Regions from separate parts of the Homo sapiens genome. Here region 1 is linked to region 2. The links come from fine-mapping of genetic effects on gene expression. A gene starts in region 2. The other region holds a variant in brackets. All regions are shown on one strand. Distances are from middle to middle. Region 1 overlaps CRISPLD2 (cysteine rich secretory protein LCCL domain containing 2). Region 2 holds the start of CRISPLD2 (cysteine rich secretory protein LCCL domain containing 2).

Evidence for each region. PIP is the estimated chance that this variant, and not a neighbour inherited with it, causes the effect.
Region 1: its variant is fine-mapped to the expression of CRISPLD2 in whole blood (INTERVAL, PIP 0.98).

Annotation. Positions count from the first base shown.
Region 1 is chr16:84,903,149-84,911,148 of GRCh38, forward strand. It overlaps CRISPLD2 (cysteine rich secretory protein LCCL domain containing 2), which reads left to right. Exons shown (of 15, transcript NM_031476.4): 15 at 3,440-6,360. The coding sequence ends at 3,494. Among named protein-coding and RNA genes, the nearest start is that of LINC02176, 21 kb to the right of the region's middle. RefSeq lists a silencer at 7,007-7,122. The variant G/A (reference allele first, on the strand shown) is at 4,310.
Region 2 is chr16:84,815,010-84,823,009 of GRCh38, forward strand. CRISPLD2 (cysteine rich secretory protein LCCL domain containing 2) reads left to right here and starts at 4,976. Exons shown (of 15, transcript NM_031476.4): 1 at 4,976-5,124. RefSeq lists a silencer at 4,749-4,938.

The DNA.
Region 1 (8,000 bases), 88 kb after region 2:
GGGCCTAGCCCAGTCCAAAACAATGGCCTCCCGTCAATTTAATGCTCCCCTCCTCCCACCTTCCGGGTCTCCTCTCCAGCCTGGCCCCTTCCTGGACCTCCCCCAAGAACCCAGGTACCCCCAACATCGGCACTGTCACAGAACATTCCGGAAAGTATCCTTAGAAGCCTGTAATCCCAGCACTTTGGGAGGCCGAGGCAGGCGGATCATGAGCTCAGGCGTTTGAGACCAGCCCGGCCAAGAGACCAGCCTGGCCAATATGGTGACACCCCATCTCTACAAAAAATACAAAAATTAGCTGGGTGTGGTGGCGCATGCCTGTAATTCCAGCTAGTTGAGAGGCTGAGGCAGGAGAATCGCTTGAACCTGGGAGGCGGCGGTTGCAATGAGCCGAGATCACACCGTTGCACTCCAGCCTGGGCAACAGGGCGAGACTCTGTCTTAAAATTTAAAAAAAAAAAAAAAAGCCCAAAGAGACTTAGTGACTTTGTCACACAGTTACTAAACGTTAGTGTAGGGATGGAGACTCGCGTCTGGAAGACATGCTCCAGAGGTGAGATTTGCAGAATGCCAAAGCAGGATGCATGGGAAATCTTATTCCCAAAAGCAGTGTTCAAAAACAGCTGTTTCAGGACTCCAGAAATACACCACAGAGTCATACAACGAACAGGGAGGTGTTTGTTCAAAAAAGTGTGGACCTCAGATAAGAACAGAGGGATCTGTGGTGTCTGAGCCTGGGACCGCTCCTGTTCACCCCACCAGCTCCTGTGGCTGGAAGTTCTACTGGGGTGGGGCTGTGCCATCCAGCGGCTTTCTTGATTTGAAGCAGAGCGAGGAAAACCACACACCTCTGGCCATTGTCAGGAACAGTATCAAACCTGGTGGCCAAGACACAGGAAGGCCAGTTGGTCCAAAGGTGCAGTTATCATCTGGGGCAGAAAATCAGGGAGGATCTAGAGAATGAGACAGCCGTGGTGGCCCTTGGTAGGCTCCCAGGCGTCCCTGGTGTTCTAGAAGGCTGTGCCCACAGCAAGAGGAGCAAAGCGGGAGGGGGCACTTAGGCTTCCCAATTCTGAAACATCCTATACAGCGACAGTGATCAAGATGGTGGTGCTGACATCAGGACAGACACAGAGATTAAGAGAACGTGATTGGGCCTGGTACGGTGGCTTACGCCTGAAATCCCAGCACTTTGGGAGGCCAAGGAGGGGAGGATCACGAAGTCAGGAGTTCCAGAGCAGCCTGGCCAACATGGCAAAACCCCATCTCTGCTAAAAATACAAAAATTAGCCCCGCGTGGTGGTGTGCACCTGTAATCCCAGCTACTTGGGAGGCTGAGGCCAGAGAATCACTTGAACCTGGGAAGCAGAGGTTGCAGTGAGCCAAGATTGCACCACTGTACTCCAGCCTGGGCAACAGAGCGAGACTCGGTCTCAAAAAAAGGTAAAAAAAAAAATTTAAAAAAAAAATTAAAAAAAAAAATGATTGGAAGTCCATAAAATAAATCATCACACTTCCAGTCAATTGATTTTGACATCGGTGCCAGGACCATTCAGTGGGCAGAGAATAATTTCTCAACAAATGATGCAAGGGCAATTAGATATTTACAAGTAAAACTGTGATGTTGGACCTTTGCCTCACACTATATATAAAAATTAACTCAAAATGGATCCAAGGCTGAAATGTAAGAGCTAAAAATTACAGATGTCTGAGAAAACAAGTATAAATCCTTCATGACCTTGGATGGTTTGCTAGATATGACGCCAAAAGCACAATCTATAAATGAAAACAAATTGATAAATTGTATTCTATCAAAGTTTAAAACTTTTATGCCTTAAAAGACACCATTAGGCCAGGCACGGTGGCTCACACCCATAATCCCAGCACTTTGGGAGGCTGAGGCAGGAGGATCACTTGGGCCCAGGAGTTTGAGACCAGCCTGGGCAACATAGTGAGACTCCATCTGTACAAAAAATAAAATATATCAATCAGGCTTGGTGACATGCTGCTCAGGAGGCTGAGGAGGGAGGATCGCTTGCACTCAGGAGGTCAAGGCTGAAGTAAGCCACGATCATGCCACTGCACTCTGGCCTTGGTGACAGACCTTGTGTCTAAAACAATTTTTAAAAATTGTCTAACACTGGATTGTGGAGATGACTGCACAACTCTATAAAATCTCTAAAAACCATTGAATTGTACACTTAGAAAGGTTGAGTTTATACGGTATGTTAAACTTAATAAAGTTGGTTTGGTTTTTTTTTTGTTTTTTGAAACAGAGTCTCACTCTCTTGCCCAGGCTGGAGTGCAGTGGCAGAATCTTGGCTCACTGCACACTCCACCTCCCACGTTCAAGTGATTCTCCTGCCTCAACCTTCAACTAGCTGGGATTACAGGTGCACACCATCATGCCTGGCTAATTGTTTGTAGAGGCAGGGTTTCACCATGTTGGCCAGACTGGTCTCGAATTCCAGACCTCAAGTGATCCACCTGCCTTGGCCTCCCAAAGTGCTGGGATTCCAGGTGTGAGGTGTGAGCCACCGTGCCTGACCAATAAAGCTCTTTTTTTTTTTTTTTTTTGGAGACAAAGTCTTACTCTTGTCCCCCAGGCTGGAGTGCAATGCCTTGATCTTGGCTCACTGCATCCTCCGCCTCCCAGGTTCAAGTGATTCTTCTGCCTCAGCCTCCCGAGTAGCTGGGATTACAGGCGCCTGCCACCACATCCGGCTAATTTTTGTATTTTTCGTAGAGATGGGGTTTCACCATGTTGGCCAGGCTGGTCTCGAACTCCTGACCTCAGGTGGTCCACCCGCCTCACTCCCAAAGTGCTGAGGTTACAGGCATGAGCCACCGCGCCTGGCCTAAAGCTCTTTTTTAAAAACCATCTTTGATTAGCTGAAGGATTTAACTCCTCTTGTGAGAGGGCAGTTTTTACTAGCCATGGGACCCTGGGTAAATCTCTTTATTTCCTGGTGTCTCCGTTTCCTCCCCTGTGAACGAGCGATAACAGCTCCCTCAGGAGGAAGGTGGAAGGCGGTGAAGCACCTGGCATATGCAGTAGTGCTGAGATAGCACCTGTTCATCTCTCCCAAGACACCACTGTTCGGGTTGACAGGTGGTAGTGAAACCAAGCAGAATTCTCGGAGGGTGAGTCCAATCCAGACAGACTGGGTCCAGCAGATCCCTGAGTTAAAAGGAAATAACTTAACAGCCTTGACCTAGAATCAGATGGATGCTCATGTGCAGAGAAAATGGGATTTGCCACCTGTTCTCAACTCAAGGCAGGCTCTGTGTCTGGCGGCTTCAAGGAAGTGTCCCTTGGCCATGGCTCTTCCACTACGGGAGCAAGCAGGAGGCACCCAGGTCTCCCTGCCCACCCAGAGTCCCTGCAGGAGGCCCTCCAGATCTCTCAGTAACGGGCCCTCTTTCTTCTTTTTTTCAGCCTGGGGACTCCTCGGGATGGAAAGGCCTTCCGGATCTTTGCTGTCAGGCAGTGAATTTCCAGCACCAGGGGAGAAGGGGCGTCTTCAGGAGGGCTTCGGGGTTTTGCTTTTATTTTTATTTTGTCATTGCGGGGTATATGGAGAGTCAGGAAACTTCCTTTGACTGATGTTCAGTGTCCATCACTTTGTGGCCTGTGGGTGAGGTGACATCTCATCCCCTCACTGAAGCAACAGCATCCCAAGGTGCTCAGCCGGACTCCCTGGTGCCTGATCCTGCTGGGGCCTGGGGGTCTCCATCTGGACGTCCTCTCTCCTTTAGAGATCTGAGCTGTCTCTTAAAGGGGACAGTTGCCCAAAATGTTCCTTGCTATGTGTTCTTCTGTTGGTGGAGGAAGTTGATTTCAACCTCCCTGCCAAAAGAACAAACCATTTGAAGCTCACAATTGTGAAGCATTCACGGCGTCGGAAGAGGCCTTTTGAGCAAGCGCCAATGAGTTTCAGGAATGAAGTAGAAGGTAGTTATTTAAAAATAAAAAACACAGTCCGTCCCTACCAATAGAGGAAAATGGTTTTAATGTTTGCTGGTCAGACAGACAAATGGGCTAGAGTAAGAGGGCTGCGGGTATGAGAGACCCCGGCTCCGCCCTGGCACGTGTCCTTGCTGGCGGCCCGCCACAGGCCCCCTTCAATGGCCGCATTCAGGATGGCTCTATACACAGCAGTGCTGGTTTATGTAGAGTTCAGCAGTCACTTCAGAGATGTATCTTGTCTTTGTCAGGCCCTTCGTCTTCATGGCCCACCTGTTTTCTGCCGTGACCTTTGGTCCCATTGAGGACTAAGGATCGGGACCCTTTCTTTACCCCCTACCC[G/A]TTGTGGCTCCCACCCTGCCTCGGACTGGTTTACGTGTCCTGGTTCACACCCAGGACTTTTCTTTGCAAGCGAACCTGTTTGAAGCCCAAGTCTTAACTCCTGGTCTCGTAAGGTTCCACTGAGACGAGATGTCTGAGAACAACCAAAGAAGGCCTGCTCTTTGCTGCTTTTAAAAAATGACAATTAAATGTGCAGATTCCCCACGCACCCGATGACCTATTTTTTCAGCCGTGGGAGGAATGGAGTCTTTGGTACATTCCTCACCGAGGTTAGCAGCTCAGTTTGTGGTTATGAAACCGTCTGTGGCCTCATGACAGCGAGAGATGGGAATACACTAGAAGGATCTCTTTTCCTGTTTTCGTGAAACGACTCTTGCCAAACGTTCCCGAGGCGCCAAGGAGTGTAGTACACCCTGGCTGCCATCACTCTATAAAAGTGCTTCATGAGCCCAGACCAAAAGCCCACAGTGAAATGAAGTACCCTTTTGTAAATAGCATTTTTTTGCAGAAGGTGAAAATTCCACTCTCTACCACCGGGCCAGCCAATAGATCACTTTGGTGAATGCTAGTTTCAAATTTGATTCAAAATATTTCTTAGGTGAAAGAACTAGCAGAAAGTCAAAAACTAAGATACTGTAGACTGGACAAGAAATTCTACCTGGGCACCTAGGTGATGCCTTCTTTCTTTGATTGCCTTTCTAATAAATGCAGAATCTGAAGGTAAATAGGTTTAAAACAAAACAAAAACCCACCCCTTTAAGGAGTTGGTAAAAAGCAGTTCAACTCTTAGCTTGACTGAGCTAAAATTCACAGGACTACGTGCTTTGTGCATTGTAGTCTAGTCGTAATTCATAGGTACTGACTCCTCAGCCCCAAATGTCGGAGAGGAAGAATTCGGTCAGCCTGTCAGGTCGTGAGTCCAGTTACCACCAAACATCTGGGAAACTTCTGGGTGCTGGGTGCTCTGCTGCTGGACTTTTGTGGCTGTGTCTGTGTCTGCAAGATAAATTAGATCGCCCTGTGGGGTTTGCAGAATTAGTGAAGGGTCCAGGACGATCCCAGTGGGCTCGCTTCCAAAGCATCCCACTCAAGGGAGACTTGAAACTTCCAGTGTGAGTTGACCCCATCATTTAAAAATAAAGTCCCCGGGTTCCTTAATGCCTCCTTCACTGGGCCTTCCTAGCAGGATAGAAAGTCCTTGCCCAGAGCAGGACCTGGCTGTCTTTTTTTTTTTTTTTTTTTTTTTCCCGAGACCAAGTTTCACTCTGTTGCCCAAGGTAGAGTGCAGTGGCGTGATCTCTGCTCATTGCAACTGCCGCCTCCCGGGTTCAAGCAATTCTCATGCATCAGCCTCCCAAGTACCTGGGACTACAGGCGTGAGCTACCATGCCCGGCTAATTTTTGTATTTTTAGTAGAGATGGGGTTTCATTATGTTGGCCAGGCTGGTCTCGAACTCCTTACCTCAGGTGATCCACCCACCTTGGCCTCCCGAAGTGCTGGGATTACAGGCATGAGCCACTGCGCCCGGCCATGGACCTGGCTGTCTTTATCATCCCCACAAACATTTTGAAACTGGAATATTTGTCTTCAGAAAATGGAAACAAGACTATAAATGATAAGCCCTGTCCCTAGCACCACCTCTCCTGTGTGTGGAATAGAGGCCCCTCGTGCTACCAACACTTACCCTGTGTTTAAAAAGATCTTGTACCAAGCCAACGGCGTTCCTGGCTCTCCTGCCCACAGGATGAACATTTTCGGCTTCCTTAGGAGTTTTGCCCTACCGTATTCCAAAGCGTGTGCTGGTTTCTCATATTGTCTGTAGGCTCACTCAGCCCGCAGTTTATGTGTGTGCTTTTTTCTATGAAAAATGATGTATTTTGCTACTTCCTGTGTACAAAGTTTTATTGTAAATGTTTTTTGTGCTTTGCATGAACAGGGGCCACGTTGTTGCAATTGTTTCAGTAGAACTGGTTTGATTTCTAAAATGTTCCTGTAACATATCTTTTATGAACAAATCTGAACAATTTGTGAAATAAAACATTGAAAACCATCTTTCAGGCTCTGGACTGTTTTGTGTTGGCTGCTTCTGCTAGGATGTCTCATATACACAGAGATGCTGACAGCCAGGGCCTGGTGGAGACCTCCACCCCATCCGCGGGAAGGAGGGAGGAGCTTGCCAAAATGCAATTTCGGGCTCAGCAAGGCTGGGTTGGGGCCAGGGACTGTGAATTTCTCCCAAGATCCTGGTGATGCGAATGCTGCCAGTCCCCAGATCACACTCTGAGTGGTGGTGGGCTCAAGGCCATTCTGTCTAAGCTCCGGCTGCCCTAACAAAATACCATAGACTGGGTGACTTAACCCACAGAGATATCTTCCTCACAGTTCTGGAGGCTGGAAGTCTAAGATCAGGGTGCCAGCAGCGTTGGTTTCCTCTGCGGCCTCTCTTTGGTTTGCAGGTGGCTGCCCCTGGCCGTGTCCTCACATGGCCTTTCCTCTGGGCATGTACACTCCTGGTGTCTCTCTCTCTCTCTTATAAGGACACCGGTCATATTGGGTCTGGGCCCCACCCTTAGGACCCATTTAACCTGAATTACCTCCTTAAAGGCCCTACCTTGAAATACACAGGCTGGCTCATGCCTGTAATCCCAGCACTTTGGGAAGCTGAGGCAGGAGGATCACTTGAGTCCAAGAGTTCAAGAGCAGTCTGGGCAACATGGGGAAACCTTATCTCTACAAAAAAAATACAAAAATTTGCCGGGCATGGTGGCGCATGCATGTAGTCCCAGCTACTTGGGAGGCTGAGGCAGGAGAATTGCTTGACCCTGGGAGGCAGAGGTTGCAGAGAGCCAAGATGACACCACTGCACTCCAGCCTGAGTGACAGAGCGAGACACACACACACACACACACACACACACACACGAAAGAAATACATTGGGGGTTAGGGATCGTTTTGTGTGGTTACAATAAGGAAATGATCAAAGTACGATTTCACAAATCACACAGTTTATTGCTACACAAAGATGTTTTTTCCTTAGGTTCCCAGTGCTTAAACAGGGAGAGAATGAGACCAAACCTCACAGAGAATACACTCGACAGACGAAGCCCATTAACCCCACAGTGGGTCAGTTCCAGAATGATCAAGGCCTACTTGCTCACTTAGGATGGAAGCAGGCCTCAGTTTGAGGTGCACCTTCTACCAGCCGTTCTTGGAAGCGCTGTAAGGTCCCTAGAAGGCAGTTCCAGCGCTGGCCAGAGGCTTCTGAGAGTAGCTCCAAGGCTGGCGGGGTGACCTGTCACAGCTGGAGCTCCCAGCTTTGGGAGAAGATGCCGAGGGTGCAGCCGGCCACAGCCAGAGCTCCCAAAGGGTCCGTCCCACTGGCAGGTTTGCATGTGTATGGAAGTCCAGTCGTGAGGGTCAGGAGCTCGCAGACGGGGTCCGATAAGGGGTGAGGCCACATTCTCCAGGGAAGAAGGGGCACACCAAGTTCTTAGCGCAGCAAAACGCGTCACCCACGTAGCAACCTGTGGAGGTGTCTGGAATCATTTCAAAGCCCTGTGGGCCGGGCACAGTGGCTCGTGTCTGTAATCTCAGCACTTTGGGAGGCCGAGGTGGGTGAATTGCTTGAGGTCAGGCGTTCGAGACCAGCCTGGCCAATATGGTGAAACCCCATCTCTACTACAAATACAA
Region 2 (8,000 bases):
GGCCAATTGGAAAATCCCTCTGGAAAACTCCGGGAAACAGCTCTGAATCATCCCAGCCAAGGACGAGAAATCTGGGGTATTTATATCCCCATCCCCATTTGCTGTTATTAGCCATTGTCCCAGGGGATATTAAATCCTAGGCACTCATGGGCCACCATGCTCATGTGCTGTGTGGGTTCTGATAGCTCAGGGACAGCCCTCCAGCAAAGACACAGGTGTGGCTGTTGGAAGTCAGGTTGGCCTTCACAGAGATGGCTGGGATCTGTGAGGACAGTCGGCTTCAGTCCTAGATGTAGATTATTTACCCAAAGCTGTTGTCCCACTAAATTTGGGGCTTTTTTCTGGATGTGTCTACAGACACTGCACAGACTCTGCTGTGATCAACCCCACCAGCCCACAGCACTATTTCATCATGCTTGTGCAGCCCGATAACTTCCCTTGGTGTCACTCAGTTGAGCTGCAGGTGGACGTCTGCTCCCAACAGACAATTCGATTCTCCCTCTAGGAAGTAGAAGTGGGAGATGGTGAGGCACAGCCTGAGCTGGGCTCTGGGACAGAGGAGAGGTGACCCCCCAAGCTGACGGGATGGCCATGTCCACAGGGAATAGGCGAGGCCTGGCTGCAGAGGGAGACGGGAATCATGTCCAGAGAAGGAGGAAATAGACGGAAAGCACTGCCAGAGGGCCTGGTGCCTTTCCAGGATTCACTCTAGTTGTCTGAGAGTCTTACTTGCCTTGGGTTCCCAAATAACTCAGTATCCTCCCAAGCAGTTCCCTTCTCTGCTTCAGCTAACTTGAGTGGATTTCTGTTACTTGCAACTCCAATTGATTAAGACCTCGCCCCCAGAGCTCCCCACTGTAGGGTCTCCACTGCCCCCAGAGAGTGGCCTGCCGGTGTAAGATGTACAAGGTGTCACCCTTGCCCCCTCCTCTCCAACAAGGCAGACAAGTGGGTCCCATGGAGAGCCTTGGAAGATCATGATTGGCACCTGTTAATACAGAGGTGGCACCATTTTTCCAAGTCTTCTGGAAAAGAGTTAGAAAAATGGCACCACATCACACATCACAAAATGGCACCCCTATGTCTCCTCGCCTCAAATTGTTAGTGGGTTTTTGTTTGTTTGTTTGTTTTGTTTTTCCTGTGAGACAGGGTCTGGCTTTGTTGCCCAGGCTGGAGTACAGAGTGCAGTGGTGCAATCACAGCTCACTGCAGCCTTGACCTCCTGAGCTCAAGCCGTCCTCCCACCTCAGCCTGCCGAGTAGCTGGGACGACAGGCACGCGCCACCATGCCTGGCTGATTTTTCTATTTTTTGTAGAGACGGGGTTTTGCCATGTTGCCCAGGCTTGTTAGTGGTCTTTGATGCCAAATTGAGGGCTGGTGACATTCTGCAGCTGCTGAATGGGTGTGGCAGGAACAAATGAAAAGCTGGGACTCCCCGGCCTTTGCTCTTGATGTCCAGTTCATAGAGCCTCCAATAAAAATAAATGATGAATAAGAAATTGGTGTGAGGACAGGAGCCCTACAGCAATCACATCGAGAGGAAAGAACGACCTTGATCTTTACATCACGTAATTAAACATTTATGACCGCCGGCCCCAGCCACCGTTCTGCAGACATGCATGCGGTCCTTCTGTCGGCCCATCTTGGTCCCAAGAGAGAGTGGGCAGAGGGCTGGGCTCTCCAGGGTGGCCCCACCAGGCTTTCCTGTTCGTTTTTCCAGGTTGGGCTTCATTGTGACCAGAAGGATGACTTTTTTCCTTTGTCTCAAACTGTCCATGACTTAACTCCCTGCCTGGGTAGCAAATAGGAGCCTTTCCTGGGATGTCCAAGGGTATCAGTGACCAGTCCCTTCCCAGGGGGCACTTGGGACGGGACTGGCCATCTTGCCCCTTTCCTTGGTACAAGTTGGTGCTCTCCCATCTGGGACTTCCCAGGGGTCCCCCTTGCCCATGAAACACCATTTTTTTTTTTTCAAATTCAAATGTTATTTTTTGGAAATTAGATTCTGAGATTGCAACATGATGGAAAAGTTGATCACCACTAAACTCCTCTCTCTCTCTTTGCTTTACTGGCTCTAATAATAACGGTATTAACTAACACTTTCTGTGTGTCAGGCCACGTATTACTTCCCATCTATTAACCATTTGTGCCCACAGAGAGAGACAGAGATGCCATTATTACCACATTCATTTCACAGATGGGGCATGGAACGCAGCGACATTAAGTGACTTGCTCAAGGCCAACAACTTGGAAGTGGAGGAGCTGGGATTTGAACTGAGCCTGATGCCGGATGATGACACAAACCAGCAAGCTAAGGATTCAGTCTGCCCCGTGGGTGAGACTGCCCGGACAGCAATCGTGGCTTGCAGAGCAGTGGTCTCTGGTTGCAGCTCTGCCAATGGGGTCCTTGGAGCGTCTGGGCTGGGCTGGGTCTCCCCAAAGCCAACTTGGGCCGGTGAGGAGCCTACAGGGTTGCCATACAAAGGATCTGTAAGGAGATGAGGGTTGGATTAGCAAAGTGGCAAACATTTCACTATTGACAACTGCCAACCCCCGTTCCACCTGCTGGGCCTATGTAGAGGCTGATTCCGTGTAGCTTTCCTTCCTCTTTGCTGGAGTGGGGATGGAGTAGGGACCCAGTTCATTCCATTCCCCTGCACCCAAGGTTTCATGGTCACAGGCAATGGCAGCCACGTGGGTGAGAGTGTGAATTCAAATCCTGGCTCTTCTATTCAGAGGCTGTGTGGCCTCAGGGAAGTGACTTACACTCTCTGTGCTCAGTTCCATCATTGAAAAAATGAGGCTAATAACAGGACCAGCCTGGAGGGTTGTTGGGGGTGGCAGGATTTGGCAGTATAATGCTTTGGGGTCAGGTACTCAGAGGCATCTGTTTTGTTGTTGTTTGTTTGTTTGGTTGGTTGGTTTTGTTTTGAAATAGGGTCTTGCTCTGTCACCCAGGCTGGGATGCAGTGGCTCGATTTCAGCTCACTGCAACCTCCACCTCCCAGGCTCAGGCAATCCTCCCACCTCAGCCTCCTGAGTGGCTGGAACCACAGGCATATGCCACCATGCTGGCTACTTTTTGTAGCAACTGGATTTCATCATGTTGCAGGCTGGTCCTGAACTCAAGCCACCTGCCTGGGCCTCCCAAAGTGCTGGGATTACAGGCCTGAGCCATCGTGCCAGGCCTCCAAAGGCATCTGCTAACACAGATCTCTTCTCCCCTTGGATTTGTCTTTTGTCAATCCAAGGACTGTTGTTCTGGAACAGTCTTATTCACTACTGAGCCCTCCAGTGCTTGAAACAGAGCCCAGCACATAGTAGGTGCTTAATTATTGGATGACTGCATGCCAGTTGAGTGCCTCTGAAGAATGATGCTTCAAAGACTGAGAAAAGTAAAACAAAAAGAGGAAAAAAAGATAACAGAAAACATCTGCATTATTATTATCTTTTTGAGATGGAGTTTTGTTCTTGTCTCCTAGGCTAGAGTGCAATGGCGCCATCTCAGCTCACTGCAACCTCTGCCTCTCAGGTTCGAGCGATTCTCCTGCCTCAGCCTCCCAAGTAGCTGGGACTACAGGCATGCACCACCATGCCCGGCTAATTTTTGTATTTTTAGTAGAGACAGTGTCACCATGTTGGCCGGGATGGTTTCGAACTCCTGATCTCAGGTGATCCGCCCGCCTCAAACTCCCACAGTGCTGGGATTACAGGTGTGAGCCACCGCGCCCGGCCAGTCTGCATTATTCTGTATCTGCATTTGAGCCGCACCAAAATCTTAGGCAAGCCTTCCCTGTTTGAGTCCACGTCACGCAGGCAGCCTTCCATAGTCCTTGTTCCACCCATTCCCCATCCTTGTTTCTCCCACGTGCCCTAGCTCGTGGGGGCCCCAGACTCTGAGATCCCGGAGGTGTCTTGTTTGTGCCTGCTGTATAGCACAGGGCCCGGCACAGAGCGACTCGATGGGTATTTGGGGAATGAGTTAATGCTGGAGGAGCTAATTCCGGTGTCTTGGTGCGGAGATGAGCAGTGCGGACAGGCCCCCTCCTGCCCTTGGGCCCCAGCACCTTACCGCGCAGTGCCTGCATACCCGTCCACATTTTGTGACTGAGGCGGGAGCACGGGGCAGTCCCTTAGCTCTTAAGGAACGTGGATTTACCTGTTTCAAAGGTGATTTCGTCTGGCTCTAAATTGATTTCCGTATGTACCTGCACAGGTTAAAAATGCTAAATGCCTCCGGGCAAAAGAGATATGAACATGCTGCACTGCTCCTAGCTACGGGACTTGGGGCACGCTCTTCTCCAAGCCTCAGCTACTGGATCTGTGAAATGAGGTGATTTCCACCTCCCTGGATTCCTGGGAACGCGTCCTAGGGTCGTTGAAGGTAAAGTGCGGAGCCTGGATCCCCGCGCTAGCGGCCCCATCCGGAAACAAGTCTCCCTTTCTTCGTCTGCAAATTGGGAAGAGGGGGCCTAAGTTTTCTGAGCACGTGTAGAGGGTGGGAGTCACCTCAGTAACTGTGTACTCTGCACCGCGCCACAGTTCACAGCGCCCAGCCCTTGCGGATTTCATTTGCTAAAATCCTGGGAGGTCGCCTCCTTATTCCTATTTTCCAGTTGAGCTGCAGAGAGCTGGGGTTTGGTAAATTTGCAAGCCCCTTGTGGGAAGCGCTTGGCACCGCGCCAGGCGCATAGTAAGCGCTCAATGAAAACTATGCTTGTGTGGCCAGTGGCGAGGGAGCTGAGCGTCTCCTTGTCCCTAGCCGGCCCTGGAGGCCAGCGGCCCCGCCTTCCTCGCCCACCCGGCGCCCGCGCCTCAGCTGCCCCCCGCCTCCTTCAGCCCGCTGAGCCTGCGGGGCGGGGCCGGGGGCGGGGCCGGTGATGCTCGGTCCTACCAGCGCCGCCAGCGATCTGGGGGCGTGGCCTCCGGGCTCCGGGGAGCCTACAAGAGGCGGTACGCTGAGCCCCGGCACCCACTCGCATCCCAGGGCGTCTCCGGCTGCTCCTATTGAGCTGTCTGCTCGCTGTGCCCGCTGTGCCTGCTGTGCCCGCGCTGTCGCCGCTGCTACCGCGTCTGCTGGACGCGGGAGACGCCAGCGAGCTGGTGATTGGAGCCCTGCGGAGGTAAGTGTGATTTCCATGCTTCTCCCTTTTGCAAACTGTTACCCCCCCGAGAAGCTGGAATAACTAGGACAGATGCCACCTCGCAGGGCTGACTGTGTGCTGGCACCACACCGAGTGCTCTGCTTGCATAGCGGAACACAGCTTTGCGACATGCCCTTTTGCAGATGGAGAAACTGAGGCTCAGCGAGGACAACTCATTTGTCCAGGACCTCGCAGCCAGGACTCCAAGGACCCAGGATTCAACGCCGATCTGAGCGCAGAATCCTGCTCCTTAGAGGCTGTTTACTCTCTTGCCTTCCTCGTGCAGTTCACTAGCATTTGTTGCATTCCTGTGTTCGTAGTGGGTGTCAATAACTGGAAAGCTGATGGCATGGATATGGCAGGCATTAGAATGTGTCCTACTCATGTCTGGAGGACCAGGGTGATCTAGTGGCATGTGCATTCAGCTGCAGTTTAGAGGGCCACGCCCCTCTGTGATTTCATTTGCAAGGTAGCCTTCTTCCCACATTTCAGATGAAGATGCTGAGGGTCAGAGAGGTGAAGTAAGTTGTCCGGGCAGAGCCAGGGCTGGAACCCAGCTCTGTCTGTCTCCAGAGCTTCAAATGGATGTGTAGAGACTTGGGGCCATGTCAGGGTTCTGCAGTCTGGGGGAACACGTTTCTGGGTTTCTTTAGCCAGAGCGGGCACCTGCATAACTCCTGCGTGGGGAGAGTTACCCTGGAAGCGGAGGGCTCACTCTGGAGTGTGGGGGAGATCGGTCGTCCCACGTGGACAGAGCCAGGGCTAGTCCCTCATGTGCTGCAGACCCAGAGCCTCCCTTGCTAAGGCTGGGCTGGTGGACAAGCCAGGGAGGACTTCGCTGATGCCTGCTCATCGCAGTCCAACTTGAATTGGGCGTCTCTCAGCCAAAATGTGAGTTGCTGCCCTGGCTGAGAGAAGCATCCCGTGCAAATGCCTAGCTTGCCTTGCAACCGAGAGTGGGGTTGTGAGTTTCCCCTTTGGGCCTTTGGACCTCTTGCCCTGGTAGAATGGGGTGAGCCTGCTTTCCCCATCCAGGGTCTGATGTCTGACAGTGAGGAGAGCCTGCAGAACAGGACCGGGGCGTGGTCCTTTCCAGTAGACTGAGGCCATGAGTTGTGACTGTCGGCTGTCCCAGGGCTCCTTGGGTTGTATGCACCTGATTTTCTGCTTCTGCCCCTGATCTGGCTGTTCCCACTCAGGAGAAGGGGTGGGTGTGTGACTGTGTTGCCTGTGCGGCAGGCACGCGGTCTGTGCCACGCAGTTTACCTGTATTGTCATCGCTGCAACACCCCGGGGAGTAGGCCTCTTGATGCCCACTTCACAGCTGAGGAAACTGAGGCTCAGCAAGGTGAAGTGCTTGCCTAAGATCCCCCAGCTGGTATGGAATGCTGTCACCCCCAGGTGGGTCCTATCTGCACTCTTGACCCTGCTTTCTTTAAGACACTTCCCTGCCCACTGCCAACTCCACCCATGAACCTGACCTTCACACAGGTGATGTTTTGTCTTACAGGGGCTCCAGTTAAAACCACTGGACAATGTACCCAGGGAGGAGAAACCAAGAGGGTGATTTTGATTTTTTCAGAGTTTCTTAAGATGTGAGAGTAGGAATAGTAATAATGCCATTTGTAATAATACAAGCAGCTGACATTTACATGATGCTTAGTACAGACCAGACATGCCCAGGGTTTCCACGGATGAGCTCACTGCCTGCTCTATTAGCTGGGCACTTTTTACAAGGAGTTAGTTGAGGCTCAGAATTATTAAGGTGTGTGCCCAACATGACACAGCCAGGGCGGGGTAGAGCTGCCGTCCAGGCTGGGCCCTGCCCCAGATTCTGGGGGAAGGTGCCCATCTAATGACCAGCCACATGACTGTCCCAGCAGAGCTTGCTGCTAGTTGAGGCTTTCTGTGCCATGTGGGAGTTTTTTTAACGTTGGCAGGGATCTGGGTCCCTGGTCCCTGTTGGGGTGAGGCTGGGAGGGGATCAACTGACCCTGGGCTTGGGCTCAACATTGCTGACAGGTACTGAGAGCCCCGTCCCAGGACCCAAATCAGTGCTGGTTCTGAGTCCTGCCTCTGTCCTGGAGAGGAGAGTTGGTTTGACTGGGAAGGCCTGAGCTAGGGAAGAAGACTGCGAGGTCTCTTAAAACCTCTGCACTTCATCCCTCAAAAGACCACAAATTAAGTATGTGGCCCTTTGTAAGTTGCATTTGAAAGTTTTTGGAGGCAGGACCCTCTGACGTCTTTGGAGGTCAGAAAGTTTTTGGAGGCAGGGCACTGACCTCTTTGGCCTGTGGGAACTGGAACTTTTCTTTCCTCTGTCACCAGCGTCATTTGCTGTGTGTGGGAGGTGTCTGCATGTCTGCCTGCGCCAGACTCAGGAGGCTTTTTCTTTCTTTTTCTTTTTTCTTCTTTTGCAAACGCACTGGTTTTTGATCAGTCCCAGATGTGCAAACCCAGGATCACTCAAACGGGCTGACGGCTTGTCAGGAAAGGAAAATTCAATCTGGGCATATTTCACTTCGTCTTCAGTTCATTGAGTGGAACAGATGCTCAGACCTTCCAGGGACAGGGACCTAAAGCACGTTGTAAAGTCTTAAATAGAGCACGCTGAGTTCTGGGACAGGCAAGGGACAGGTAGATCTGGGTGGTGGTTAATAGGATGGGCCATGTTCTGTTTTTCTTTTTCCTGAAAAGATGTATTGTGGTAAAAATACACATAAACATAAAATTTACCATTTAACCCATTTTGAAGTGTACAATTCAGTGGCGTTTAGTACATTGGAAGTATTGTGCAGCCACCACCACTAATTCCAGAGCGTTTCATCATCTCGTAAGGAAACCCCAGGCCCATT